4 linked regions of the Homo sapiens genome follow. The protein of the gene in region 4 interacts with the protein of the main gene of each other region in a biochemical or structural test. Each region holds a gene or a part of one and is shown on either strand. Other genes may lie near its edges. The genes, in order: LRP2, SYNPO, LPP and MAGI1.

Region 1 (7,025 bases), on a different chromosome or scaffold from region 4:
TTGATTAAAGAGGAAAGAAAGAAATGACAGTAATTAGGATTACATGCCAATCACAGCACTTTAATCACAGCAACACAAATCCCTGGACTTCATTTTTTTGTGATAAGTTCTGATTGAAATTAGAAAATATTAAAGTTAGAAAAATTAATGAGCACATTACCAACAGAACCAAATTTAATTTGACAATCTAATGGCCTCAATTTAGTCTCATTTTTTGAAACAAAGACATAAAAAGAAGTAAAAACACATAACCAAGTACAAAGGATTTAATCAGAAAATTATCCAATGGTGATGTATTTGAATTCAATTATGGTTACCCCCTACACAGATGTGAACTCATAGAGGAACTGAAATCCTTCCTACAAAGCTACACAGTGACTGTGACAATGGTGATGCACACCAGGCTACTGTTCAGAATGAGTTTATGGCCAGTAAACTGTGGTCAGGAAACTTACTGCAAAGTGGGGACTCATCTGTCCCATTGGGGCAGTCAAAGATGCCATCACACACTACACTCAGATTCACACAGATGTTATGGCCAAGACACTGCCATTGCCAACTAGGACAGCGAAAGGGCTGAGTAGGGCAGTCCTTCTCATCACTCATATCCCCGCAGTCATTGTCCCGATCACAGAGCCATGCCCTGTGGATGCAGTTTCCGTTGTCACAGTGGAAATATGATGAAGGGCAAGTCTTGGGGACACAGGCATTGTGCTCATCAGATCCATAGAGGCAGTCTGGATGCCCATCACATTCCCAGAAGTTCGGGATGCAGATACCATCTTCTTGGCACTGAAATTCATCTGAGTGGCACATACCAGGAGGCCTGGTTGCTAGAAGGAAAACATGGGGTAAATCGGCTTGTGAATGTAATTTGTGATCCCTTTTATAGTCTAGACTCAGAGGAAATGATTTTGGATCCAATAGTAGGTTTATAGTAACAACTATGACCAAATTAATATTTAAGGCTAAATGATATAGAGTCTTCTCCCACACTCTAGTACATAGAAATATTTCTTTGTGGCAGCTAGTGGCTCTGACAACAAACGAAGTACAGAACGCACAACTGCTGACTAGCAGATGAGTACCTGTGTCAAAAGAACATCCTGTTTCCTTTTCCTGTGTTTTTAATGTACTTCCAATTGCAGATTCAATAATAAAGTTTATCTATCTTTCTATGAAAGAATCACCAGAACATTACAATAGAGCTTAAATAGCTATGATTACTTTGAACTTCATGTGTTTCATATCATGTTTGGGTGTTATTATTTTCCCTCAGATGAACTATACCTAATGAAACCATCACACACTAACTAAAGATGATGGTAAATACTCAGTTCTTTGCAAACTTTCCACTATTCATCAAGCAATCCTGGAGAGATACGTAAGAACTGCTTCCCTATTTGACAAGGGTAAACCAAAACTCTCTACCAGGGATCTCACAAGGCAACAGCAAGCCAGCGGCAATTGACAGTTTAACCTCAGCTCATCACAGAATTTTATGTTTTTAATGTGAAACAGGAAAATTAGTGATTAGTAATTTCTAGATGTTGTGCAAACTATAAAGTATATAAGCATTTTATTTAACTTTTCTTTTTAATCCATGGCTTTACACACTACCTTTCTGACGCAGGAGGAGAATTCATGAAAACTTACTTTTTTGGTCTAAAACACCATTGTTCAAACAAATGATCAACTCACTGATGAGTTTTTGCAAGTCTAAAATCCATTTAAAACAAAAAGTGGGCAAATAACAAATCATGTGAGTATAGGTTTCCAGTCTGTGAAGATTATAGATCCATCAGAATTATACTGTATGAAGTCCTACTTGAATCCTCCAACTAGAAGAAATTTCTTTTCTCTGAACCTCCATAGAATTTTATCTGTGCCATTTCTAAGACCCTTGTAACTGTCTATCTTGCTTAATTGTCTCTTGCCTTCTATAATCTCCATAGATAACATCTTAGCAGATATTCAACACATAATAGCACAAAGAATGAATTCATCAGAGTCAATACTAAACACAGCTCCATACCATTTCTACACCATGATATGACTTCTCTACTGAAACTTAAAAGAAACCAGTAAAATATCTTTATATGGAGTAGAGCCTCAAAAGTTTAAACCTACTAAAGTGGGAAGTCCTAAGAAAAACTAAAAGTGAAAACAAAAATATCTAAGAAATATTTAGCCCATCTAAGAGACTATTTGAAGTGTCCATTTATACAACCACTTGATTTGTTAATTACACATTATATGGCAATGTCTACTCAATTTTACTGTATGTTCAATACCACATTCCTTTGAGGATACTTTCCCCCAGTTTGTCTGAGTTAGGGAAAATGTGTGGCAATATCAATATCAATACTGGCAAAAATGAAATGACCCCTTTGTCTGAAACATTCTGGGTATGTGTTACTTACGACAGCCTGCTTCATCCGAGTTGTCACTGCAATCAAAAACACCATCACAACGATTTGTGACGCCAATACATTTATCCCCACTGGCACACTTGAATTGAGAAGCAGTACAGTTTAATACTAAGAATGAAAGAGAAAAGCATTAGAAATTAGCTCAGGGCTAAAATGACTAAACACTGAGATTTTTCTTTTTTGTTGTTATACTTTAAGTTCTGGAGTACATATGCAGAACATGCAGGTTTGTTACATAGGTATACACGTGCCATGGTGGTTTGCTGCACCCATCAACCCATCATCTACATTAGGTATTTCTCCTAATGCCATCCCTTCTCTAGCTCCCCACCCCCCAACAGGCCCCGGTGTGTGATGTTCCCCTCCCTGTGTCCATGTGTTAACACTGAGATTTTTCTAAATAAACATTGTGAATAAAAAAGAAGGCAATGCACTTACCACAACCAACCTCATCAGATCCATCAACACAATCCTTGTCACCATCACAGACAAACGATAGGTCAATACATCGATGATTGGGGCAATTAAACTGACTAGGTTGGCATGTCTCTGTCGAATCTAATGTCATCCGAAAACAAAACCAACAAGTTTATTTCCTGTGCAACAAGTACCAGAGCCAAACTAAAAATGGCTAAATAGCTACAGAAGTTATCTCAATTGTACATGGGTTCAAAATTCTTTTGAATCAGCCACACTATCAAAGTCAGCTAAGCAAAAGAACTCAAAACTAGGATAGGTTTTAGAATTGAGAATAAAAAGATTACAGGGCAGAGTCAGAAACTGTGATTACACCTTGGAAAATAGACCACATTCAGAAAGTGAGCATCATGTGCTTGGACTTGGACTACATTTCATGAATACTATGAAGTCCATGACTCTAGACCAAAGCCAAGCAATGGAGCCCAATCAGGCAACAAAACCAGCATGACCCACATGCCTAGTAGCAACAGTGTGTAGACAGACCCCCAAAACTGGATTTAAAAGTCTGAACAGAACAATTCTAAAAACCAGGGTCCTACCTTACTGTTAAGACCATAGCCTTGGAGTCGGATGCAGTGGCTGGCCCCACCCACAACATGAAATTATATTAAATACACACTTATAGGGTATGAAAGCTAGAAGGGATCTTAAAGCTCATCTATTCCAAATGATAGTGACTTGCCTAGTCAGGCAACCAGGACTAGAACTTAGCCCAGGGAACTTTGCTCCATCTTAAACTATTATTGAAGACATGAAATAAAACAACAAGCTAAAGGAAAGCAGAACTGGCAAGATGGAAAACAGGTGGATAAGATCAAAGGAAATTTAAATTTTCTGTGCCTCTTTATTTTGATGTCTTTTTGCTTGTACCAAATGAAAAAGAAACATCAATAGCCAAAGGTCTGGATATATCTATATGACTTTTAGTATTGTTTTAAATATATAAATAGATAGCTGAGGGATTTTCACTTTTTCAATTCCTATCTGAATTGAAATGTTTGGCATCAGAGGCAGTCCTTGCTTTGCTTCCATAGAACTCAATATTTGTAGGTGGACTCTAAGAATCCCATGTGCAGGCACGTGCCTTTGTTCTTGTAACCTATTGACACAGAGATTGACAAGTGGAATAGAAGTACTAAAGAGACAATGAAAATTGCATGAGCCTTAGAGGAAAGAATGCAAGGCCATTTGGTTGTTGAAGTCTATTTACGAGGCTGACCAACCAAGGGAAACCAGCTCAAAACTTACTGCAGTTCTTTTCATCAGATCCATCCCCACAATCATTGTCTGTGTCACAGACCCAGTTCTTTGAGATACACTGGTGATTATCACAGGTGTATTGGGTGTCAAGGCAGGAAGCAGGTGCGTGGGTGGGGCAGTTGTGCTCATCACTGCCATCCACACAGTCGTTGCGTTTGTCACAGCGCCAGTGTGCAGGAATGCACTCCCCATGGCCACAGGTGAACGCCGAAGATGAACAGGTATTATCTACAATAGTAACAAACTGGTCATGAAGACATTTGTTTTTACAGCCTTTTAAATGAGTTCTTGCCTTATAAAGGCTCAGTTCACCTTTTTTAATGGAGGCATTGTATATAATAAGGAGAAATGTTCATCAAGTGATGTCATCATCACTAACATCATTATTGGCTGGCATTTATTTGGTATTTATCATAGAAAAGGCATTTTTCTAAGTTATGCACCCACACACATCATATAAGTTCTCTTTAAATCCTCACAAGAATACTATAAAGTACATATAATTGTCTGCATTTTACAGATAAGGAAATTGAGTCTTTGAGAGATTTAGGAACCTGCCTATGATTCACGCTCTGGTTGGATTCACTCTAAAGCTCATCCTTAACTTTCAAGCTGTTACTTCCTCCAACCACAATTTCAAATTCAGACTATAGAAAGCTTGAAAATATGTCATATGAAAAGTGCAAATAGATAAAATATTAAGGTAAAATGCTGTGCTCTTAGAAACAAGAAGATAATACACAAAAAGATGAAAATTTAAAAAATTTCAGAAAAATGTACAAGTGAGCACTTTACTCTTGCAAATCTGTCACTCCTCTTTCTCTCCAAAAGAAAGGTTATTATTAGTATTAACTTCACCTTGATAGAGATTTCTGAGATTTCAACTGTCCTCTATCTTTTTTTTAATTTGAATGTAATACTTTTGCCTTCTGCAATAGTGTTTATTAGGCCCCAAACTATATAGACTAGATTACCGTCAAAAGAAGAATATAAAGGTTAAGACCACCATTTCATTGTTAATTTATTTTACTCTAACATGGGAGAAAAGGAATATAACACATGAGATTTTCCAAAGGCTATGATTGCAAGTAGTTATTCTGTGATACTATTCTCTCGGTTGCTAAATGTTAGGTCTACTTTATTTTTGGTTTTTGTTGTTGTTGTTGTTTGTTTGCTTATTTTTTTGAGGCAGGGCTTCACTCTGTTGCACAGGCTGAAGTACACGGCACAGTCTTGGCTAACTGCAGCCTCAACCTCCCCAGCTCAAACAACTCTCCCACCTCAGCCTCCCAAGTACAAATTTTTGTATTTTACAAATTTTGTGAAAATACAAAATACAAATTAGCTGGGTGTGGTGGCATGTGCCTGTAGTCCTAGCTACTTGTAATTTTGTTTTTTTTGTATTTTGTAATTTTGTATTTTGTAATAGTCCCAGCTATTTGTAATTTTATATACATATTTTTTTCTGAGCTCATCTATTTCTTTTTTATTTATTTATTATTATTATACTTTAAGTTTTAGGGTACATGTGCACAATGTGCAGGTTAGTTACATATGTATACATGTGCCATTTTATATTTTTTGTAGAGACCGGATTTCGTCATGTTTCCCAGGCTGGTCTCAAACTTCTGGACTTAAGCAATCCTCCTGTCTCGGCCTCCGATTACAGGCATGAGCCACCTTGCCTGGTCAGATCTAGTTTATTTCGATTTGACTTTTTGAGGAGTTTGCCAAGACATAATGACTGCATTGGTCCAAACAGCCAATGTCAAGGAAAAAAATTGTTGAAGATAGTCTAAATCAAGGCCAGAAACCATCCATAACATTATGAATGAAATTTCTTGCTTAGCTTCCTAAAAGCCTTCAAAGTGCATGTTAAGAATCTGAAATTCTAAAAGATATTTTTCCCATATAAATAGCCCAAGCTTTTATTTATTTTCTTTAAAGCCCACCTCTACTCTATTCATCCCAGGAAATATCGCCAGTGCATAGCTACTTACTAAGTGTGCCACATAGTTGCTCATCACTGTTATCATGACAATCATCGACTCCATCACAGAGATAGTAATTGGGCACACATCTGCCATTTTTACAGGGGAAGGAAAATAAGCCACACTGCTCTGTGGGTGGTTCATTGGTTGGGTCCCCCTCGCATGTCAAGTGATTGGAAGCCAGCCTCATTCCATAAGGGCACCCACACACTCGCTGGAAATTTGGCACCGGGAAGCAGAAGTGGCTGCAGTCACCGTTAGGATGCGTGGGTTGATTACAGGCGTTAGAACCTGCAAAAGCAAAGCCCCGAGGGAGTCAGTCATGTACATTTTCACTAGGTAGGTCACGGGTTTGATTTGTGAAGGAAAACAAACAGGACAAAACATTTTTCAGACCCAATACTAAAAAGTAGCTTCCTCTTGGAAATCAACCCGCCAAATACAACATTCCATTTAGGTATGGAAAAGTCCCAAAATGTGTTTTTCCTGACAACATGTTTAAGGCTAGCAGCATTGAACAGAGATTTCAAGTCTTACACTCTTAGATTATGTGAACGACAAGAATATAAAACTACCAGGAGCTAGACCTTTAAGTAATAAGTACTTAAAGAGAACAGGAGCCACTGTAACAAATAAATAAACCCATACAAAAAAATAAAAAAAACTGGGCAATCTCACTCACCAGTCTGGATGTTGACATCATACGATTTCAAATGCAGTATGTAAGCAATGCCACTTCGGATAACTGTCATTTCTCCACCATCTGCTTTCCTGACTCGAATAATGGCACCCAGTCTCCAGTCAGTAAAAAATAAATGCTCTGAAAAGAAACATGGGTAGATTAGTATTTTCAGTCACAGCT
Region 2 (7,499 bases), on a different chromosome or scaffold from region 4:
AATCCCAGCTACTTGGGAGGCTGAGGCAAAAGAATCGCTTGAACTAGGGAGGCAGAGGTTGCGGTGAGCCGAGATCACGCCACTGCACTGCAGCCTGGGCAACAGAGCGACATTCCATCTCAACAACAACAACAAAAAGTTTTCTCTTTCATTCCAGCCTGACAGCCCTGCAGAGATTTGCAGATACATCAGATCCCCTTGGGACAGGGTCAGGATAAACATCTCTAGTCCTGCCAGTGTTTCTTATGACACAGTTGCAGCAATAGTAGCTAATATTGATTGGTCACTTACTGTACACCTATACACAGACTTTACTCATATTATTTAATTTCCAAAACAAACCTACAAATCACAAACTATTATTATGCACACTTTATTGATGAGAAATCTACGGCTCAGAGAGGTAAAGTGAGCTGCCCACGATCACAGAGCCAGAAGGAGTAGAGCTCTGTTCACACCTGGCTCTACGTTACTGCAGAGAGCACCAGGCTCCTGGCTGGCCGGTTCCCACCTTGCAAGGCTCATAGAAAGCACTTCAGTGTTTGATTACTCCAGACCTCTCAATGCCCCTGCATTTTTCTGCTTTTCTCCTTACTGGCTCTAGAAGGCCATGGGTTTAGAAAATCCTCAAATGTCAGAATATGAAGGGCCTTTAGAAATAAGCTGGCCTGGGAGGCCCAGCCAAGGAAGAGGTCAGAGAGGAGGATGTGAGCCCAAGACCAGGTCAGCTGACTCTCAGTGAGGCTCCATGCACAACCTGGGCTGCCGCTAAGATCCCATCACCACCACCTCTCTGAGCTTAGAACTGCTCCCAAGCTACTGTTCTGGAACAAGAGGAATGGCAGAAAAGGCCAGGAGGTAAGAGAGCCCTGCCCTCCAAGGCAAGCTCCTGCAGCCCGCACTCCAGCCCACAGTGACTCCATGGAAAAGGAATTCAGCAGGAGGTTTGGACCAGATCCAGCCAGCCATCCAGATGATTTTCGCCACCCTTCACAAACAAAGCTGGGGAGGCGGGGGGACACCCTAGAGTCCCTCGTAGCAGGGCACCAGGGGGCAACTCCATCTAAAATTCCTCAGACTAGGGAGCTGCCCTCTCTGGCAATATCCCAGGCAGCAGCTGCTCAAGATCATGCTCTTGGTGTCAAAGGTGGGGGTGGGGAGGTAGCCAAAGGCTACAGGGGACAGGTACCTCATTGAACCCTCAATCGGCCTGGCTGTGGCCTGCACTTGTGCAAGTCATGATGTCCCCACCGCCTCCCCACCTAAACTTCTGCAGGGCCAAGTTGGGGTGCTAGCCCTTTAAAGACCCACCCTGGACACTGGATCAGGAGCCCTGAAGATAGGCCTTCAAGAGAGGAAGGGGTGGAGGGCGGGCACAATGAAAAGCTGCCTGGGGTCAGGAGACCTGGGTCCAACAGGGTAAATCCTGAAGTGGGGGAGTAGGCGAGAAGCCCCAGCACAGCCATGAGAAGGGGCTTTGCAACGACTGCTGTCACTACTGAGCCCCTGCTGCAGCCCAGGCTCAGTGCTGTGCACTTTATGCTCACCACCTTGTTCAGTTCTTACAACAGCTCCCAGACATAAGTCCTGTGATTCTTCTCATTCTGCAGATGAAACTGGGGCTCAGAGAGACCTGCCCAGGGTCACACAACTTATGAGTGGCAGAGCTGGAATCCAAACTCAGAAAAGTCTGGCTCTGAGTCTAATCTCTTAACTATTCTCCTTCCAGACTAGGACTCTGGAAAGAGGAGAAACAAGAGAGGCTCCAGTGCTCTTGGATGATGGTCTGCAAAGCCCTCTGCTCCCTCATCTTGTGATCAATGCCCCTCAGCAATGTCTTCTCCCCTGAAAACCCAGCTGCCTAGAACAACTCCTTCTTTCTTCCACTTCTTCCTTTCAGGAGAAGAGTTGATAAACTCATTCTTACTAAGGTAGAAAGGACTGATAAGGCATGAAAGATGAGTAGAGTGGGAAGATCACTATGTTGGGAGTCAGAAGACCCCAGTTCTTGTTTGGCGTAGAAAGGGACAAACCCTTTCCCCCACCCCTACCACCCACTGTGGACAGCTGCTTGTTCTGCCCACCACTGGGGCCCGTGTGGATGGAGGATCCACAGGAGGGAGGTGGGGCCGGGGAAGGGAGGCCAGAGCAGAAGGTCAGGACAGGGAGAATTCAAGGAAATGCTTCTTCACACGATGCCGTCAATGGGAGTGTCCAGCCAGGGTCAGGTGGGGCGGGGTGGGACAGAGAGCCAGGGGTAGGAATAGAGATTGGCTCAAGGCAGCCCATTGTGGTAGTCCAGGGGTCTTGGCGACAGGAAGGGTAAACAGGCTGGGTAAACTGCCCCCCTGGTGAGGTCAGGAAGGAACCAATGACTGGCCACTGCACAACCTCTGGCTCAGCTGGGGGCAGGAAAATGGAGAGGCCTGAGTAATGGCCTGGCTACCTTGCCAGCCCCTTCCCCATTCCTCCCACTGAAAGGAGGAAATGACACAGGCTCCATGCCCTGGAGAATTCTCCATCCCCAGAGTCATGGCGAGCGCAATCTGACTGGGGTCGGCAGACTGCCAGACCTCCTCTTGGGAGGAGAACAATCTAGACTTTGGTGGGAAGGACTGCCGGGCATGGGAGAAGACACAGAAATGGGGTGGGGAGCCCCAGGCCCAGCCCCCGCCTCACCACTCACAGGCTGGCAGAAATCACCACATACCTCTCCCTTGATGCCCAGAGGACAGACTAAGATCAGAGGGGGGATGCCACATGCCCTAAGTCATATACCCCAAGCCACAAAGGCACCTCCGGGTGCTCATCTTACTCACTCTGCTAGGTCCTCCCTGAAGCCAAGCTTCCCCCTGGATGCTCCTGCCGGCCTTCAAGCCTTGGTTCTCAAAGCCTCCGGCAAAGGCAGCCAATTGCTTGGCTGACGAAGCCAGGAAAATCCCACATCGGCAGCAACATGAAGGAGCTGGATGTGACTTTTCTCCTCCACAGATGACTCAGCCCAGCTCTTTATCAGGAAAACCGATTTTGCAACAGCCTTTTAAATGGCCTCTCCACCCCCAGTCTCTCCCCCGCCAATCTACCCGCCCCACGCTGCCAGATTCATCTTCCTCCCTCCGGGCTCCACTCATGCCTCTCTCCTGCTCAAAACCCTCTGCTGCCTCCCCAGGACATGGAGGATCAAGAGGAGAGTCCTCATCCTGGCATTCAAACCCCTGCTATCGGGGCCTGCCCAAGAGCTCACTCACCTTCTCTCTGTGCCCTCAGCAACAGTGGAGGGAGTTCAGTGGCTTGCAGTTCCCACAGCTGCCCAATGAATTCCTGCCTGCAAAGCAGCGTTTGCACAGACCCCCTCTACCGGGAACCCTCCTCTGTCTCACATCCTTTCTACATGCCCTAATCCTTCAGATTTCCGGCCTACCTAGAATGCCACCACCCCCTCCAAAAAGCCTTCACCAATGTTCTGTCTGCATCACTTAATAACCACCACCTTGTGTATTATTTATTCTAGTAAAAGTAATCTTTCAGGGTATACTCACCACATGCCAGGTAGCAGGACAGGGCCTTACTTCACTTACTTCCACAGCAACCCATGAGGCCAGCACTATCCTCATCTCCATATTAGAGAAGACGCTGGCTCAGAGGGGTGCAGCAACTTGCTCAAGGTCACACAGCCAGCCAGAGGAAGAGCTGAAATTCAAGCCCAGGTTGGCCTAATGCCCAGTGCAGGGCCAGTCACGTGGGCCATGCTGCCCCCTCCCAGTGTTTTGCTTTGTAGCAATGAGGGTCTGGGCCCTATTTTCCCCCAGAGACTGCAACGGCCTCGAGGGCAGGGGCCTCTACTGCTTCACTTCGGTATTCCTCCCTTGTCCCCACCACATCTTCCATTGGCACTTGCAGAATAAACATGAAATCTATGAGAATGACAAGAGCCAACATTTTGGGAGCACCAGATGCTGCCAAGCCAAGGGTTTAACATGCCTTTTTTCATTTAATCCTCACAGCAACTCATAGAGGAGGTTCCCTTATCCCCATTTTGTAGATAAGGAAGATGAGGCACACAGAAGCAGCTAACTCACCCCAGGTCTCACAGCTTAGCAAGGGGCCCCTGCGGTCTGACTGATCTCAAGCCTGGACGCCTTCCTTCTGAAGAGCTCCCCACAAAGCAAATTCACCTTCCTTACTCACCCATCCAGGCCCAGCCCAACGGCCACTTCTTGTAGGAAGCCCTCATCAATCCATTCAGACTCCTAGATCAGTGCTCCTCCCCTGTTCAACCTGGCCCAGAGGCCCCAGAGCAGGAACAGAGCTCAGAGGAAACGGCAGGTTGAGAAAACTCAGAAACCCAGGGGAAGGAGGCTGGGCCTGGCCAAACTTCTGGTTTCTCTCTGCTGGCAGTGGGTCGGGATCAGGGAGGGCAGAGATGGATGGGTAAGGGGAAGCTAAGATGAGGGCTCCACAGTCAGCGCAAGCCTGACCCATCTTCTATCCTTGCAGACCACAAGCCCTGCTCCCTGTTGGCTGACCAGGGCCCTGCCAAAGGCCAGGAGCCACAGCCTCTCTCTTGCCCATTCTACTGGGGTAATTATTAATCTATAATCAGTCAATTTTTAGAAACTTTGAGATGGTAACCCAGAGAGAGGCAAGCTGAGCCCCAGGTATACAGCAAACTGAAAAGGGAGGGCTCACAGAGAGGATCACAGGATCACAGCCCAGGCTTCCACCTCTCCAGTCCAACCCTGGTGAGCTAAGCCTGTGCTCACGAAGCCCCCTCCTGCTGTTTCACTCTCCCCAGCCCCAGCTCCCTGGAAGCCTTGGGAGTACAGAAAGAACCATCATACCCTGCCTTTCCAGAGAAAACACATAATCTAAAAGACAAAAAGGTGGCAAGCCAGGGCAGGGAAAGAGGTGGTTTCCCCTAAACAGTGCCTCTGCCAGGGTCAGGGCAGGGCCTAGGTCATCTGCGGGTCCCCTCCACTCTTCCCAGGGCCTGACACACTCTGGGCCCGCCACAAAGATGTGGTCCTTCCCCTTAGCCCTGTGCCAGCCTAGGGCCAGGACTGGTCTCTGTCCTCTGTAAATGTCCCCAGACTCAGCAGAAGCCATCACCCAGGAGGGGTTGAAACCATCACTGTGTTGATTAAATAAACTACTAAAGGACAAGCACTTCCAGAATCCAAAGCCTCCCCCTTCACATTTTGCTTCACCATTCATCCCTGGAGATGAATTTTAGATTTGTCTAAATCCAAGATTCATCTAGATTCTAGATCAAAGATCTAGAGGGTGGTTCCTGGGAGTGGGAGGAGAAGGAAGGAGAGAGCAACACGTTTGTGAGGGAAGGAGATGAAATCTCAAATCACTGTGTTAGACCTAAGGGGAAGAATGTTTCATGAAGTGAGGGGAGAACATACAACCTAAGAGAAAGATGAATTAGGATGAAGCAATCCAGGAAGTCTTCCTGGAGGAGGTGACATATGTCCTAGCTCTTGAAAGATGGAGATAAGGAAGCATTCTAAGCAATGATGATAGCTCAGCAGAGACTAGGAGGTTCAAGATAACCCCCACCCCACTCCCCTACCTACCCCCATACCCCAAATCAAGACCAGCTGAATAGAAAGGAAACTTTGATAGAGGAACACACCCACTGGGCTTGCCCAGAGGCCAGGGGTGAATGGGGAGGGCTAGGCACAGTTCCACAGGAGCTATGTACATTACCAGGCTCATGCCCGGAGACCAGAACCTGGGCCTCCGGGTGGGTTACATAACTGCCCCCAACTCCTTGGGCCACAGAGCCAGCTGGGACCCTCCGCCTCCACCTCTCCTGCCATCTGTCTCAGCAGCTTCCTTCTTATAGGAAAGGACGCCGTGCAGCCCAGCTGAAAGTGAAGGACAGCGCCCTGTGGTAAATTCCCCACATTCCTTCCTCACAGAAAAATAAATAACTCAAAGAAAAAACGCAGGAGGAACGATAATGACAAAGTCACCGCACATGGGGTAAACAACAGAGAGATGAGGTTTATCCCCAGGAGGCGTCATCACCAGCCTGGGGCTCTGGGACAGACAAACCTGCCCCCAACCCCTGCGGGTTCCCCAGACGGGGTCTCAGGCGCGCTCACAGCTGCCAAAGAAGGCGCTGGGAATCCCTCAGTCGTGGCAGGTGGTCACCGTGTGCAAACTCCTCAGGGGCCGGGTGCAATCATGTTCATTACTCAAGTTGCTGCTTACTGAGCACTTCTAATGTGCGAGGCATTCGGTTTCAGTGTTATCATTTTTCATCATGTTGTTTTATTTTATCCTCACAGGCTGTGAGTTAGGGAGTACCATTATTCCCATTTTACAGATGAGGAAACTGAGCCTCAAAAAGAAAGGTTTTGTGATTTGTCAAGGTTATTTGGCCAGTGAGTGGATTGTGGGTTTCCAGCCGGCCCCTCACTCCCGAATCCATTCAGCCTGCCCGCTCCTCCCACAGACAGCCCTCCTTTACCAAATCCAATCAGAGGTGCAGCCAGTTCTTCCCCCATCTATGGCTCAGCAAGGCATCCTATTCAAATTGCTGGGCTACCTTCAGTAAATCACTTCACCTCTCTGAGTCTCAACTTCATCATCAGTAAAACAGGGATAATAATATCTGCTTTGCAGAGTAGCTGCTGAGTAAATGAAATGCAGCAATGATTTCTAAAGTATAAAGCACTGTGCACACATTGGGGGGTGGTTAACTGTAGGCTTTTGCACACACCCACCTCTGCGTAACTCGACCAGGCTGGGGCTGTATCTGTCTCTCTCCCTGTCTTCACCACCCCTCTCTGGGTCTGGTCTCACTCTTCTGCTCATTATCAGACACAGTCCAACCCCATCCCCCTTCCCAACACCCCCCACCCCGCGTTCTCTCTGCACAGGGGATCCCCATGTCACTTCTAGCCAGAACCAGTTTTGAACCCCAGGCCCCCTCAGAGGAGGACACCATGGCTCTGGGGTGCTGGAGGCTGCTGACCCTGCCATGGCCCTCTCCTCTGCTGCCATTCACCAATTACCAGGCAGGTCTGGCCCCACTCCAACAGGAGGAGTCTCCTGCCAGGGAGAGGCTGAATCATGCAGTCCTGCCCTCCATGTTTCCCTCAAATTATAAAAGAAAAGAAGACTAGAAGTCAGGAGATTTGGTTCCAGGGTCTGTCCTGTCACAATTTGGGTGAGACACTGGGCTGATCCCTGACCCTCTTGGGGCCTCAGTGCATCCAATTTGTCCAAAGGAGGGATTGGACTGGACTGGTGGTTCCTAGAGTGTGGTGCCCCCACCACTAATGGAAGCAAAAAGGATTTTAGGTGGTACCTTGATATTTAAAATCTTAATAGTTATATACATTTCAAATGTGAATTGGAAAAGAGGTATAATGAACACACTTGTGATCTCAGGTATATTACTGCTTAAGGAGAGGCTAAAGTGGACATTTCACTAACAAAATTTAAAGAAAATATGTATAGGTGGTGCATGGATTCATTCA
Region 3 (6,869 bases), about 120 Mb from region 4:
AAACGACATGATGAACAATTTTATCAGATTTAAGCCATCAACTATAAGATGTGCCATTACCAACTTAGGATGAAAAACAACTGCACAACTATGGTACATTGTAATAAGACAACCACATTTCAGTGATATTAAAATGTGAAAAAAGTGTGTTTTACAATTGATTCGATACAACGTATTTGTCTCAATAAAATACAGGAATCTGCTATAAAATTTTCATATTTGCCAATGGTACGTAATAGGTATTCAGTAACCTATGTCGAGTAAATGAACAAGAACCAATTGATAATATTATTTTTCTTGGGGGGGTGGGGCGCAGCAGAGGAAATGGAGTCTCACTCTGTCACCCAGGCTAGAGTGCAATGGTGCAATCTCGGCTCACTGCAACCTCCTCTTCCCAGGTTCAAGTGATTCTCCTGCCGCAGCCTCCCAAGCAGCTGGTACTACTACAGGCACATGCCACCACACCCGGCTAATTTTTGTATTTTTAGTAGAGACGGGGTTTCACGATGTTGGCCAGGCTGTCTTAAACTCCTGACCTCAGGTGATCCACCTGCCTCGAGCCTCCCAAAGTGCTGGCATTACAGGCTTGAGCCATCGTGCCAAGCCAATAATATTCTTAGGCCAAATTATTACCTCTCTCATTGGAATTGGGCAGCAGGGGGCTTCTCGATGCCAGTACCTCCCCTCTAAATCATGTCTCAGCCTGCTCAAAACCCTCAAATGATGAATTTAAGATATATCCAAACTCCTTAGCCTGGCATTTTTAAGCCCCTTTATAACCAAGTTTCCTCTCCCGTCCATCATTTCCTGGAACTGTCTTCACCAGAATGTGTCACTCTAAGAAAGATCCTACTCAAGTCCCAGCCACAGCAATCAGCTCATCAGCTCAGCTTCTCCTCCCTCTGCGTACACTCAAAACCAACTCTAGACCCATGCTGCTTACAGAGAGCCTGCCTCTGGGGGGACTGCCAGACCCTAAGGCCCCAGGCTTTTACCCCTACCATTCAGAATAGGTAATCCCCTCTGGAGCCTACATTCTAGACTATAAAGTTTTGGGTGTTGGGGTTGGGGCCTGCATTGTAGAAATTAAATGCAAAAATGCACACTCTCCTTTGTTTGTTGTTGTTGTTTTTTGTTTTTTTTGAGAGGCAGTCTCCCTCTGTCGCCCAGGCTAGAGTGCAGTGGTGTGATCTCAACTCACTGCAACCTCTGCCTCCCGGGTTCAAGCGATTCTCCTGCCTCAGCCTCCCGAGTAGCTGGGACTACAGTTCCCCGCCACCACACCCAGCTAATTTTTTGTATTTTTAGTAGAGACAGGGTTTTGCCATGTTGCCCAGGCTGGTTTCTAACTCCTGAGCTCAGGCAATCCGCCCGCCTTGGCCTCCCAAAGTGCTGGGATTACAGGCGTGAGCCACCGTGCCTGGCCCACACACTTTTTCCTTTAACTGCCCCCTGGTGCTGGCAGGAACTGTGCAAGCAGAAAAACTGGTGACGAAGTGGAGAAAACCATATTGGATGTCCTAACCCCCCACTGTCCACCATTATTGACCATAGGCTCTAGGTCTAGCACCCACCTTCGTGGACCTTTACCTATTCTTCTATCTATAAGAGTTGAGGAAGGGGGAGGATGGGAGAGGGAGCTAGATGCTTTGTAAAGGTGCCTAGCCACACTTTCCCCTTCTTCACTTTAGGCTTTCTTAAAATGCACATGTGCAGGGAAAGGTAAGCCATTAAGTCATCAACACCTTAGTGAGAGTGAATTTTACAGGAAAGGCAAGAGATTTAGTAAAAGGGGAAGGAATGGAAAGAGAAAGGGGACTGGAAACACAGTTAAGTGAGTTTGGTACTAGCAAAAGCCCCAGAGAAGACCCTGAGTTCTCGCTAGTTGTTTTGTGTTGGGGGAGGGAAAGCAGTGGATCCCTTCTAAGGGAAGGGAAGCCAGAGAGATTTTTCAGTTCTCCTACGACTCCGAGGTTCCAAAGACTCTGCCCTGTCCAAGCACCCAGGCACAATTCCACTGATTAGCTCATCTCATATCACAACCTCCCCCATCCCCAACCCCTTGCCTCCAACTAAAGAATATTTATACTTTCATCTCCATTTCCCACACTACTTAGTCTTCTCTGGCCCACGGTTCCCTCGAAGAGATGTCTTCCTCCAAGCCGCTAGCTGGCTTCAGGAAACTCCTCAACCTCCAAAAACCCCATTCAGTGCAGGACTCTCCAAAAGGCCGTCCCAGGGACCAGAAAATCAAACCCCCTCCCTGGAACTTCCTTTAACTTTGTCCACGCCTTTGCTCCAGCACTTAGCATTTTCTACCCTAGGCCAGGTTTGACTCCCAGGTTCAACTGAGTTCCTTGAGGGCAACGTCCAATACACCCAGCACAGGGTCTGCCACACACAGGGTGCTAGAGAAATGCTTAGAGAAAGGGAACTTAAGTCCGGAGCCAACTATTTGAATTATGGTCTGGCCTCTAGTAAATAACTTCCGGGCGACCCTCCTTCTCTCTGGGCCTCAGCTGCCCCAACTGTAAAATGGGAGGACTTGGAGGACTGGGTCTAGGCCCTTTCCGCTGTGACAACTGTGATTCCGCGAAAGCTCTAAGCGGATGGGCGTGGCCCCGCCCCCTGGGCGCCCAGAAAAGTCCGGGCAGGGGGCGCGCAAGGCTCCAACCCCGCCTAGCCTGGGGTCGACGCTTTTGGAAAAACTCTGGGTCCCCCTCCCCCATGGCGTGCACCCCGTGATTGGGCCGCGGCCGGCACTTCCGCACAGCGGGCCAGGCCAGAGCAGGGCGCGCGCCCTGCGCTCTTGCCACCCCGGAGGCGCTCGCGCCGGGGGAGGGCTGGGGGTTCCCGAGGCGCCCGCGGGTGGAGGGTGAGGGGAAGGAAGGATTTGCAACAATACCTCAGGGAGGAGGCAGCCGGGGCAGCGGCGGTGGTGGTGGCGGCGGCGGCGGCGGCGGCGGCGGCTGGAGGCGGAGGCAGAGGCAGAGGAGGAGGTGCCCGGGCACTCCCCCTCCCATTGTCCCCAGCCCCGGACAGGCCCGGCCCCGCGCCCCACACTGGCCTCCTCGAGCGCGCCGCCCGCGCCCAGCGCCCCACGCCCCGCGCCCCGGGCCGTGCAGCCAGCCCTTACCTTGCAGCGCCCGGCTGTCTCCCGATCGCTAAAGCTACTTATCCCGGGAAAGCTCGCGCGGGACCCGGGAACGAACCCACAGACAAAAAGTGAAACTTCGGCAGGGCTGGAGCGGCTGCTGGTTGGTGCCTTTCCCCCTCCTTCCTCCCCACCGTCCCCACCCCCTCCCCTTGGTCTCCCGTGCGGTGCCCTGAGCGCTGGAGGCTGACGTCAGGGGCCTGAATTCCTGACTTTGCCTGCACGCATTTGTCCATGTAAGGTATGGGAAGGCGTGTGCCCGCGAAGCCGCCGCGCAGAGCTCGCCTGGCGGGGGAGGGGAAACCCGCAGCCGGCAGTGGCTTTGCCAAAAGGTGGGCGCACTGAGGGCATTGCATTTCCTGGGAGGAAGAGGAGGAGACGCGGGAATGCAGGGAGCTTGCAAAGGAGGAAGAGAAAGAGGGAGATGTGGAGACTTTGCCCCTGCTAGAGGAAGAGGAAGGAGACGTAGGAGGAAGCGGCCGCGTCAGGGGGCTCCTGGAAAATGGAAAAGCCTGCGTCTACTATTAAGGCGTCAAATTAGGGCACTGAGCTTGAGTGGAAGAGATCCAGCCATGAAATCCCCTTCCAAGATTTTCCTCGTGAGCCCCGCCCTGGATTCCCAGCAAGACTCAAAACTTACAAGGTGTCAGAGCTGGCAAAGACCAACTTCCAACCCGTCCGCTTGGCACGTGAGGAAACTGAAGCTCTCGGAAGAGAAATGACTTGTACAGGGTCGTCACTCAGCAGATCGAGGAGCGGGCCCAGGCGCTCTGCCTCCCACTTGGGTTCCCGCCTCCAGGAAGGGCCCTGGCTCCCTTTTAGCCCTGAGCCTTGAAGCAGGTTAGATGCCCGCGAGCTGTGCGGACCACCCAGTGATTTCTACTGCTCTTGGCCCAGAGCCAGTTCCTGGAAGGTCCTGGTTGACAGCGAGCCCTGAATATCAATGACAATCAGTTGCTTCAGGGCAACTTCCTCTGTCCTGTGCTCAAATAAATGAATCCCTGGAGTTTAACGTTTACTTCTGAGCCCCGCCCAGAAAGCTTGCTCTGTGCTTATAGCTTCAAAAAAGTCTGCGAACGAGATGAACTGGTTTGAATACAGACAAGCCTGTCATTGGAAGTTTTGAGTTGGATTTTTCTTTCCCCTCTGACATCTGTAAGGGTGAACGACGATGAGAACCACCACTTAACTGTGTTAGGGGATTATGACGCGCAGCAGCCATGGCCAGGAAAGCATTCCATACCCTGAGACTTCCTTTCCTTGCACTTCTCTCCTATTAATATCTAAAGTAATCCCTCACGTTAGCACATAATGAAAGCAGTCTCTCACCCGGCTATTGCATCTTCAGGTGAGTTAGATAGGACAGAGCGTAGTCCCCCCTTTACACCTCAGACAAAAACTTAAGAAACGTTACTCGCCCAACACAAAACAACTGACTGACCAAGCACCTGTCTTCCCCTCCTCCCATCCAGGTCTCCTGACTAATCCCTTCATCTTTCCATACCTGGCCCTGACCTCTAGCAGGACCTAATTCCATTCATAACTGTTGAGAGTACACCATGAGCTACTGATTCATAAAAACTCCAAAAAGTGGTTCTTCTGAGGATGGACTTTAGTGGGATTCTTTTGACCAGGAATTAAGGAAATAATGTAAAAACACATGTTATTGGATTTATTAAGCACCTTCCTTGTGCTTAATAAGTGTTTGAATTCAGACATTTCAGGGGTAAGACTACTTAACCTCTGTGTTCCTCTCAACTATCTAATGTACACATACAAAAATATGAACATGGCTGGGCGCGGTGGCTTACACCTGTAATTCCAGCACTTTGGGACGCCGAGGCGGGCAAATCACCTGAGGTCAGGAGCTCGAGCCAGCCTGGCCAACATGGCAAAACCCCATCTCTACCAAAAATACAAAAAACTAGCTGGGCGTGGCGGCGAGCGCCTGTAATCCCAGGTATTCCGGAAGCTGAGGCAGGAGAATTGCCTGAACCCGGGAGGCAAAGGTTTTAGTGAGCCGAGATTGCGCCACTGCACTCCAGCCTGGGGGACAGAGCAAGACTGTTGTCAAAAAAAAAAAATATATATATATACAAACACATATATATACACATATATATACATATATACACATATATATACATATATATACACATATATATACATATATATATACACACACACATATATATATACACACATACATATATATATATGAAGGCAGTAACAGAGAGATAAGGTCGAGAATAACCACCCATTCCACAGACTAATAAAGAATTTATCTCTTTGCAACTAACATAGTTTGAAATGGGAGATACGGGCTCTTGGAGAGAGTTTTTTCTGGGGTTCTGAAAAGGTCAGATCCTATCAAAACACAATCCACTCACTCAAACATTTCAGCGTACTCACATTCTGAGTACTACTGTTTAGTATGAAAAGAATTCCAGTGTTACATGAAGTAAAAATGGATTATCTCAATCCTCATGGAATATAACGGGACTTGACCAGCATTTCCTTTTTTTTTTTCCTTCAGTAACTCACTTATAAGGAATAATAGGGTCCTAATGAGGATTAAGATTTAATAAGGTGTAATTAGAGTTGTTCATTTCTTCCATCATATACATTATAAGAGTACTGTGCCGGATCCAGAAATGCTACTAATTATGTTGAAACTGTTGTATGGGTGTGTTGGGGAAGTCACTGTGTTTCTCCTCCTGAAATGTTTATGAATTGCTCAGGTGAGCATGGTGAGCATGGTGTTAGCATGAACATCATATAAAGTTAACTACAAAAGATAATTCTGACTCATGAGGAACTTCCCAAGAGTACAACCACCCAAGTCATAATCTGGATGCTTAGTGAACTGCATACAGTGTTGTCGTCAGTGCTAACCCTACCAAAAGCCTCATTCCCATTTACTGTTCTGGTTTCTTTCGTACTCTTACTTTTCTCAACCTCCTGTTACAACTTTCTACGTGCAGGCGCTTGCGTGAAATGGAAAGGTTGTATGAATTTGCACTCAGTGGTAGAAAAATACTGGTTTACCAATTCAGAGGCTAAAACACAGAATTTCAGGTGTAGTGTGGGGTCGTTTGGGCCAAGGATAGCACACTGGTGGCCTAAAGGCTACCAGCAGCATTTTCATGGGTTCAGTAATGGCATAAAAGACTTTTAGGCAAGCTGGGCTTGGGTCCTGCCTTTCGTTTGCATCCATTACAGTCCTGTACACGTGGCCTTTGTGTAGCTCATGCCAGTCCTTATTTGGAGTTTTCATATACATTTCACTTAACTCTCACAAGACCCCTTCTGAGGTTGGCATTATTATTTTTTTATTTTATCCATGAAGAAACTAAAGCCCTAAAGCCCAGGGAGTTTAAGTACTAGCTCTGTGTTAAGAGCTGAGTAAGCTCATTTTTTTTTTTTTTTTTCTTTTTTTGAGGTGGAGTCTTGCTCTGTCGCCCAGGCTGGAGTGCAGTGACGTGATCTCTGCTCACTTCAAGCTCCACCTCCTGGGTTCACACCATTCTCCTGCCTCAGCCTCCTGAGTAGCTGGGACTACAGGCATTCGCCACCACGCCCGGCTAATTTTTTTTTTTTTTTTTTTTGTATTTTTAGTAGAGACGGGGGTTTCACCAGGTTAGCCAGGATGGTTCGATCTCCTGACCACGTGATCTGCCCTCCTCGGCCTCCCAAAGTGCTGGGATTACAGGCA
Region 4 (7,025 bases):
CACCAGGATTAAATGGAGGCCAAGTGAGCTCTACTGGATGAGAATGCTAAAGGGTTGTAGCACCTTGCTGATTCTAGCCAGTTTCCATGTGGATAAGTCATTCAGGGATAGAGCTGAGGTACATGAAAAGCCCACACAGCCTGCACAGCCCTTCCCCTTCTCCCATTGTATTCCATAGTAAGTAACAAATGTGCTTGGGAGATAACAAATGACTTTTTACCCAATCAGGAAGGTGGATCATTTTTGGAGTGTACATCTATAATCAATCCATTGCAATGGGAAGCAGATTCATATATCACTAGTTTCTGCAATCATCTGGGTTTCTATTGGTCTTTGCTAGTGTACCCAGAAGAGAGTGAATCCTTCTGAGAAAGTGACAACTGTGTTTCTCCATACTTTGCTGAAACCCTCAATGTCTGGACGAGACAGGAAAATCGAATGACTCTTAACTCAGATTTTAACCAGACTTTAAATCAAGCAACAGTAAAAATATTATTTAAAATTAAAAAAAATTCCTATGGGGATAGAGTAGAGAAAGAACACAGATGAGGCAGACTAGCATCTCATGTAGTATTTTTACTCCTTACACCTCTGTTTTTCCTAGAGCATTTTTACAGCCGTATGCTCCTTGTAAAAACTCTTAAGACATTCTTAAGACCATTCTGAGGCCCTTGCAATTAGTGCTATCCTATTCAAGACCTTTCGAAAGCCTTGCTTTGGCAAAAACTGTAGACTCTGTATGCTGTCCAGGGGTTCCTATTCAAATTTCTTTTCTTTCCTTTCCTTTTCTTTTTTTTTTTTTTTTAAGACAGAGTCTCGCTGTGTCACCCAGGCTGGAATGCAGTGGCACAATCTCGGCTCACTGCAACCTCCACCTCCCAGGTTCAAGCGATTCTCTTGCCTCAGCTTCCCAGGTAGCTGGGATTACAGGCATGCACTACCACGCCCAGCTACTTTTTGTACTTTTAGTAGAGACAGGGTTTCACCACGTTGGCCAGGTTGGTCTCAAACTCCTGACCTCAAGTGATTCACCCTCCTCGGCCTCCCAAAGTGCTGGGATTACAGGCGTGAGCAACAGCGCCCGGCTGCTATTCAAATTTCACGCAAATCTGATGTATGCTTTAAGTTGTGTATGCGTGATCACATTCTCAGTGTGGAAGTTGAAAGGGTTGAACAAATATTCCCAACCTTCAAAAGGGAAAAAGCTACCAAATCAACTCCATCTCCAATTAAGTCTTTAATTACCCAGAGCAAGAAGCTATAAAGCATTTCTGCACGTGAGGTCTGAGTCAGCTTTCACTCGCAAGAGAACAAAAACTCCCAGGCATGGTGGGAAACCCTGGGTAATTTCACGTTCAGCACTCACCAAAGGTCGTGCCTGCTTCGGGCCTGCTCACCGAGGACACGATGACGAAGCCGAAGCCCTCGTTCTCCCCGCGCCGGATCTCCACGTCGTAGGGCTGCACCACGGTGCTGACCACGCCGCTGCCCCCGCCGCCGCCACTGCCGATGCCGCTGGTGCTGCCGCTGCCCGAGCTCACCGTGTTCAGCGAGTTCTGGCTGCCCTGCGGAGTGCGCTTCTCTTCTGTCAGCGAGGCCGGCTGGTTGCTACTGTGATGAGAGGAGGCTGGCGAGGGCACCTCGTTCTCGGTTTTGGGCACTGTAGCAGAGAGATGCACGCGTACATCACCGTGTCCTGCAGCCCCTCCATCCTGCTGCCCCTCCCTCCTTCCAGCAACTCCTGCTAGAAATCAAAACGTGAACCGAGGGGAGGAGACAGCACCTGGTTTCACAATACCTGGATATACGGATTGAAAGCAGCTTCTCTTGACAAATATTAACCATTCAGTATCTACGAACATTGATCCCACCTAACACCAAATGGGACTCCCAAATAGCGTTTGTTGTTTATAGCATGCTATATGTCGACATCCACACTCAGAATCAAGTCTGCAGCAAGATCGGCCTGCTGTGAAATATTTCCCCATTGCACAAAGGGAAGGGCCTAAGCGTAGGTGAGGGCTACACCCGTGAAGACCGCCATCTTGGCTTCATAGATACAACCTTGGATGCACGTTCACATTGTCATTACTTTCCAGTCACATTTCCACCCAGCTTTTTCCATCAGGCGACAAACAGTAAGGTGATGGTAACGTTGAGGCTACCCGCCCTATGTGGGGTTCATGACAACACCTGTGAGACATACACATGCTTCTCTTCTTAGCTTCCAGGTGTCAACATCGACTCTGATCACAGAACTGGATACACTGGCCTCCTTCTGAATTTAGTCACCGTTCTAGTGTTACCATCAGACTGCAAGGTAAAGCACTCCTAAATAGCCAACACCGTAGGTGGAACCAACTATGCCAAAAAACAAAATGTGTGTTGTGTCCAAGTTTTGGATCAGACTGTATTTATTTCCAAAAGCTTCTCTTTTCATAGATTGTTTTAATTTTGGAAAAATAAGCATAACAAATTTTTAAACCATTTTTAAGCATACAGTTGAGTGGTATTAAGTGCATTCACATTTTTGTGCAACCATCATCATCATCCATCTCCAGAATTTTGTCATTTTCCCAAATTGAAACTCTGTACTCATTAAAAACTAATTCCCCTTCCTATTTCCTCCACCCCCCACCAACCATCATTCTGCTTTCTATCTCTATAAATTTGACTACCCTAGGTATCTCATATAAAGGGAATCAATATTTCTCCTTTTGTGACTAGTTCACTTGCATAATGTCTCTTCATAGATTTGACACGCCTTTTACACAGAGCTAAAAATCCAAAATATTTAAGATTTAAAAAAATAAACCTGAAACAACAAAAAAAATCACATTGCCTTACTATTTCTATTTGGGCCAGGGAAGCGAGATAGTTAGTTTTCATCTCATCTCAAAAACTCGTTCCAGCTGACTGCTTTTAGCTACATGGAATAGTATGTTAAGAAGGATTGTGAGGTCACAAACACACTGGAATTTAACATCTTAATTCTATAATTAATCATATACCATTTAAAATGGGTTATACTCTTTTTTTTTAAAAGAAGTTACCAATTAATTTTATCTGACAGGTATCTGTTTCACTAATATGAATGCCAAGAGAATTCATAATATTTCAGGTCATATTTCTCCAGTAATTCCACTGATAGAAGACAATCACCTCTGCTGCACTCTGGGTTCTGCCTTAAAGGTTTCAAGGTGGGAGCTGCATCCAAAGGTGAACAACCAAGGTGTGTTCAACGTGAGCTTTCAAGGGAAAGGACAAACACTCACACAATTCACTGTCTCAAAATGGCAGATTCTGATACAGCAGTAAACCATGAGTCACTAGAATGGCAAGGAGGGAATGCTAAAATCTGAAGGCAGTTGGAGGAAGGAGGAATTTCCAAGGGAAGAAAGTTATATTTGAGCTGAGCCTGAAAGGATATGTAGTATTTTGAGAATTAAAGTTCAAAGCTTATGGGCAGGAAGAAGGAATCAAAGCTGACCTAGAACTGGCCAGCTCTACAACTTTCTTGTAGAAAGAAAAAAAAAAAATCTTGGTTTAATACATAGGACAGTAAGAAATCAGTAACTTTTTTATGAGCTTATTTTGTAGCACAAACCCGATTTTTGTTCCCTTGATATGAAGCTACAACTCTTCTGACTTTCATAATGACCTCATTTGCTGAGGATTAGCATCAAATGAAGAGGATGGCTAAGTTCTGATTTGCAAGGAGATAGAAGGGAAGTAATATATATTCAACTAGCCTTCCTCTGGAAGCCTTTGTTGAACACATGCAAACGGCACATTAAAGTACTTTAGAATGACAGTAATTTTTGCAGGGTTTGAGAGAAGCAAGCCATCTGGAAATTCTGAGCTTGATCACATTTGCAAACATTTGCTAAAATAGACGCTCAAGGAGGCAGACACAGGAAGGAGGCCTTTTCTGTGAATAAAGTGACAACGCACTGTCTGAAGGAATGAATGAAATACATACCCGCAAAAACCACTTTACGCCGCACCGTGAGATTGACGTGGCCTTGCTTGGCAGCTTGTTGCATAAGCTGGACCACAAGCTGGTGTGATTTTCCAATTACTGGCGTCCCATCCACACAGATTAATTCATCTCCAGACCTCAGGCGGCCGTCAGTATCAGCAGCACCCAGTGGTACGATGTGACCAATATAAATCTGTTGAGTAATTGAACGATGGATGAAACATTGCTCTCCTATGTTTACTGTTACATCAATAGCCTTCACATCTCTGGGAACAATTCATTCATTCATGTCTGCAGGCATGCCGCAAACATTTATTGAGCACCCACTGTGTACAAGACATTGTGCTAAGCACTGCAACAATTCTTAAATGGTGGAAAGAGTATTTCTTGCTTAGTTTCCAGATGTTTATCTGTGGCCTATTGATGACTCACTCTCTTTTTCCCCTTTGCAGATATAAATTACTTTTCTCCCTTCATTATATACCCTATTCTTCTTTGGTAGCTACCTAAAAACTCTCTTTCCATAAAACTCTGCTAATTAAAATATTAATATTACTTTTATTTAAGGGTCTAGCATCATGCCTAGGAATAGGGAATCTGTAATAAATACTCTTAAATGAATGAATGAAGCAAAAGTTGGTTGGACATCTCCATTTTTGAAGTCTTTTAGCACCCGAAAGCAGAGCACTCTTTATAGTTAGTGTCTTGCTGTTATATTTGCCATTCACTAAACCTTAGCTAAAATATTTGTGCCTGCCTTGCCTTTCCAGCAGACAATAATGCTATAGCTACCTTTACGTGGCATTTATAGTTTACAAAGAACTTTGACAAAATAGTTGCTAAGAACATGAACTCGAGTCAGACCTTATTTGTCAGTCCCTCCATTTGGTAGCTCTGCGATCTTGGGCAAGTTAGTTAGCCTTTCTTTTCCTTGATGTGAAAACGGGATAAACTGGTGGGTTTGACGGATAAATGAGAGAATGTATGTTAAGAGCCTTTAGCACAGAACCTGGCACATAGTAAGCGCTCGATGAATAATGGCTGTTATTACCACAAGGAAATTAACGATACCTATTTCAGTTTTCTTTTCTTCCTTCAAAGGAACCCTGTTATGTTATTCTAAATTTATTCCAAAATGGAGGACACTGAGGCCCAGGGAAGTTCAATGTTTCTTGACCCTTACTCAGGGTTCTTTCTCAAGTTTTGTAAAGGCAGGGGTCTGACATTCTCCAATCACTGTCTCATAAGGCTTTGCGAAGTACTCTCTGCACACCAGCAACTCAACATACAAAGCCTACTACCTGCTGGCAGAGTGAAGGGACCTGGCCAGAAGGACCAGGCCACTGTGATATTAGGTGATGCCTATTCCTGTTTTGCTTTCTGTTTTCATCTCCCTTGGGGGAAAAGGGGTGGTCTACAGAGGCAGCTCCCACCTTTCACAAACACTCATACAAACTTTTTAGAAAGAATCTAGTCTCTTCTTCCTCAAGACAAAGAGAGCTCCACAAAACCCAATGAGAAACCCACACTACTCAAGATTAAAGAGTCAGTGTTGCATCTAGCTGGACTTAAATCTTGGTGATTTGTCACTGTCGCCAATTTGCTTTGAAGCCTTAGAAAAATATGCTGGGAAGAGAGACAAGCAAAAGACTCACAGGTTCCCCTGGTTCATTTCCACCCAGAATCCTAAATCCAAATCCAGTCTCTTTTCTCCAGAGGAAGATGTCCTGTTCCTGGTAATCTGGAACTGCAGAGAGGGGAGAAAAAAGAGAAGGATTATTTTACTGATAAAAGCAATGATACCCCCAAGATGAACACAGTTGCAGGACAAGAATGGTGGTGCTTGATCAGATGGAAGATTTTCAATATAGGCAAAGAAACAAAATACTCTGAACAGGTGAAATAATGGAAGACACGGGGATAAACAGTGGGAATAGTCACTGAGCCCTAAAGTTCTTCACAGGACCCATCACTGTTTGATAATTCCGAATCAAGCCCAAGCCATGATCCTTAACTACAAATAGTCAGCATTAACTGCTTTCCTCAGTATTCTTGCAAGGAGAATTAAGTAAATTAAAATTATTATGTGCCACACCACAAAGCAGGTGTCCATGTCCAAGAACACTCAGGCTAAGTCAGAGTCACCTCTGAAGCCAGATCTAAGGATTCGGAAGTCATGTTAAGTCACCAGATGTTTCCTCTACTAGAGGATGAAAGAGAACAGCTTGGTTTAAACAGACTTTCTGATTTATCTTTAAGTCACTTTCTTCTTCCTTAAAATAATTAAGGCTAGCAATGCTAATAGGCTTTGTTAGATCATTTTTGCCAAAAATTACTCTAAAACATCCTAGTATTTCTGCATACAGTCAGTCCTCCATATCTGTGGGTTCTGCATCCTTAGATTCAACCAATCACAGATAGAAAATTTGTTAGACCTACAATGGTTTTAGCTGTGATGAATACGTACAGATTTTTTTCTTCTCGTTATTCCCTAAGTAATACAGTATCACAACTATTTACATGGCATTTGCATTGTATTAGATGTCATAAGTAATGTAGAGATGATTTAAAGTATATAGGAGGTGGGGTGCAGTGGCTCACAGTGGCACTCCCAGCACTTTGGGAGGCCAAGGCAGGCGAATCGCTTGAGCCCAGGCATTCAAGTCTGGGCAACATAGTGAGACCTTGTCTCTACAAAAAATAAAAAATGAGCCAGGTATGGTGGTGTGTGCCTGTACTCCTAGCTATTCGGGAGCTGAGGTGGGAGAATCACTTGAGCCAGGGAGGTTGAGACTGCAGTGAGCCATGATTGCCCCAGTGCACTCCAGCCTGGGTGACAGAGTAAGACCCTGTCTCAAATAAATAAACAAACAACAAACAAACAAATAAATAATATAGGAAGGGGTGTGTGTGTGTGTGTGTGTGTGTGTGTTACACACAAATATTAGGCTATTTTCTAGGGATTTAAGCATCCATGGATTTTTATATCCTTGGTGGGGGATGCGGGTGTCCTGAAACCAATCCCCAGCAGACACTGAGGGGT

Evidence for each region.
Region 1: the proteins of MAGI1 (region 4) and LRP2 form a complex in vitro, tested with the Homo sapiens proteins (one study listed by BioGRID).
Region 2: the proteins of MAGI1 (region 4) and SYNPO form a complex in vitro, tested with the Homo sapiens proteins (one study listed by BioGRID).
Region 3: the proteins of MAGI1 (region 4) and LPP form a complex in vitro, tested with the Homo sapiens proteins (one study listed by BioGRID).

Annotation. Positions count from the first base shown.
Region 1 is NC_000002.12:169,240,533-169,247,557, forward strand, and holds part of LRP2 (low-density lipoprotein receptor-related protein 2 precursor), read right to left. Parts: intron 6,984-7,025; coding exon 6,846-6,983; intron 6,455-6,845; coding exon 6,173-6,454; intron 4,401-6,172; coding exon 4,161-4,400; intron 2,991-4,160; coding exon 2,871-2,990; intron 2,541-2,870; coding exon 2,424-2,540; intron 834-2,423; coding exon 456-833; intron 1-455. UniProt on the Homo sapiens protein: Multiligand endocytic receptor. Acts together with CUBN to mediate endocytosis of high-density lipoproteins. Mediates receptor-mediated uptake of polybasic drugs such as aprotinin, aminoglycosides and polymyxin B.
Region 2 is NC_000005.10:150,636,175-150,643,673, reverse strand, and holds the start of SYNPO (synaptopodin), read right to left. Parts: upstream 3,015-7,499; 5' UTR 2,820-3,014; intron 1-2,819. UniProt on the Homo sapiens protein: Actin-associated protein that may play a role in modulating actin-based shape and motility of dendritic spines and renal podocyte foot processes.
Region 3 is NC_000003.12:188,150,289-188,157,157, reverse strand, and holds the start of LPP (lipoma-preferred partner), read right to left. Parts: upstream 3,002-6,869; 5' UTR 2,906-3,001; intron 1-2,905. UniProt on the Homo sapiens protein: May play a structural role at sites of cell adhesion in maintaining cell shape and motility. In addition to these structural functions, it may also be implicated in signaling events and activation of gene transcription.
Region 4 is NC_000003.12:65,377,895-65,384,919, forward strand, and holds part of MAGI1 (membrane-associated guanylate kinase, WW and PDZ domain-containing protein 1), read right to left. Parts: intron 5,730-7,025; coding exon 5,638-5,729; intron 4,176-5,637; coding exon 3,983-4,175; intron 3,233-3,982; exon of another isoform or gene 3,155-3,232; intron 1,661-3,154; coding exon 1,367-1,660; intron 1-1,366. UniProt on the Homo sapiens protein: Plays a role in coupling actin fibers to cell junctions in endothelial cells, via its interaction with AMOTL2 and CDH5. May regulate acid-induced ASIC3 currents by modulating its expression at the cell surface.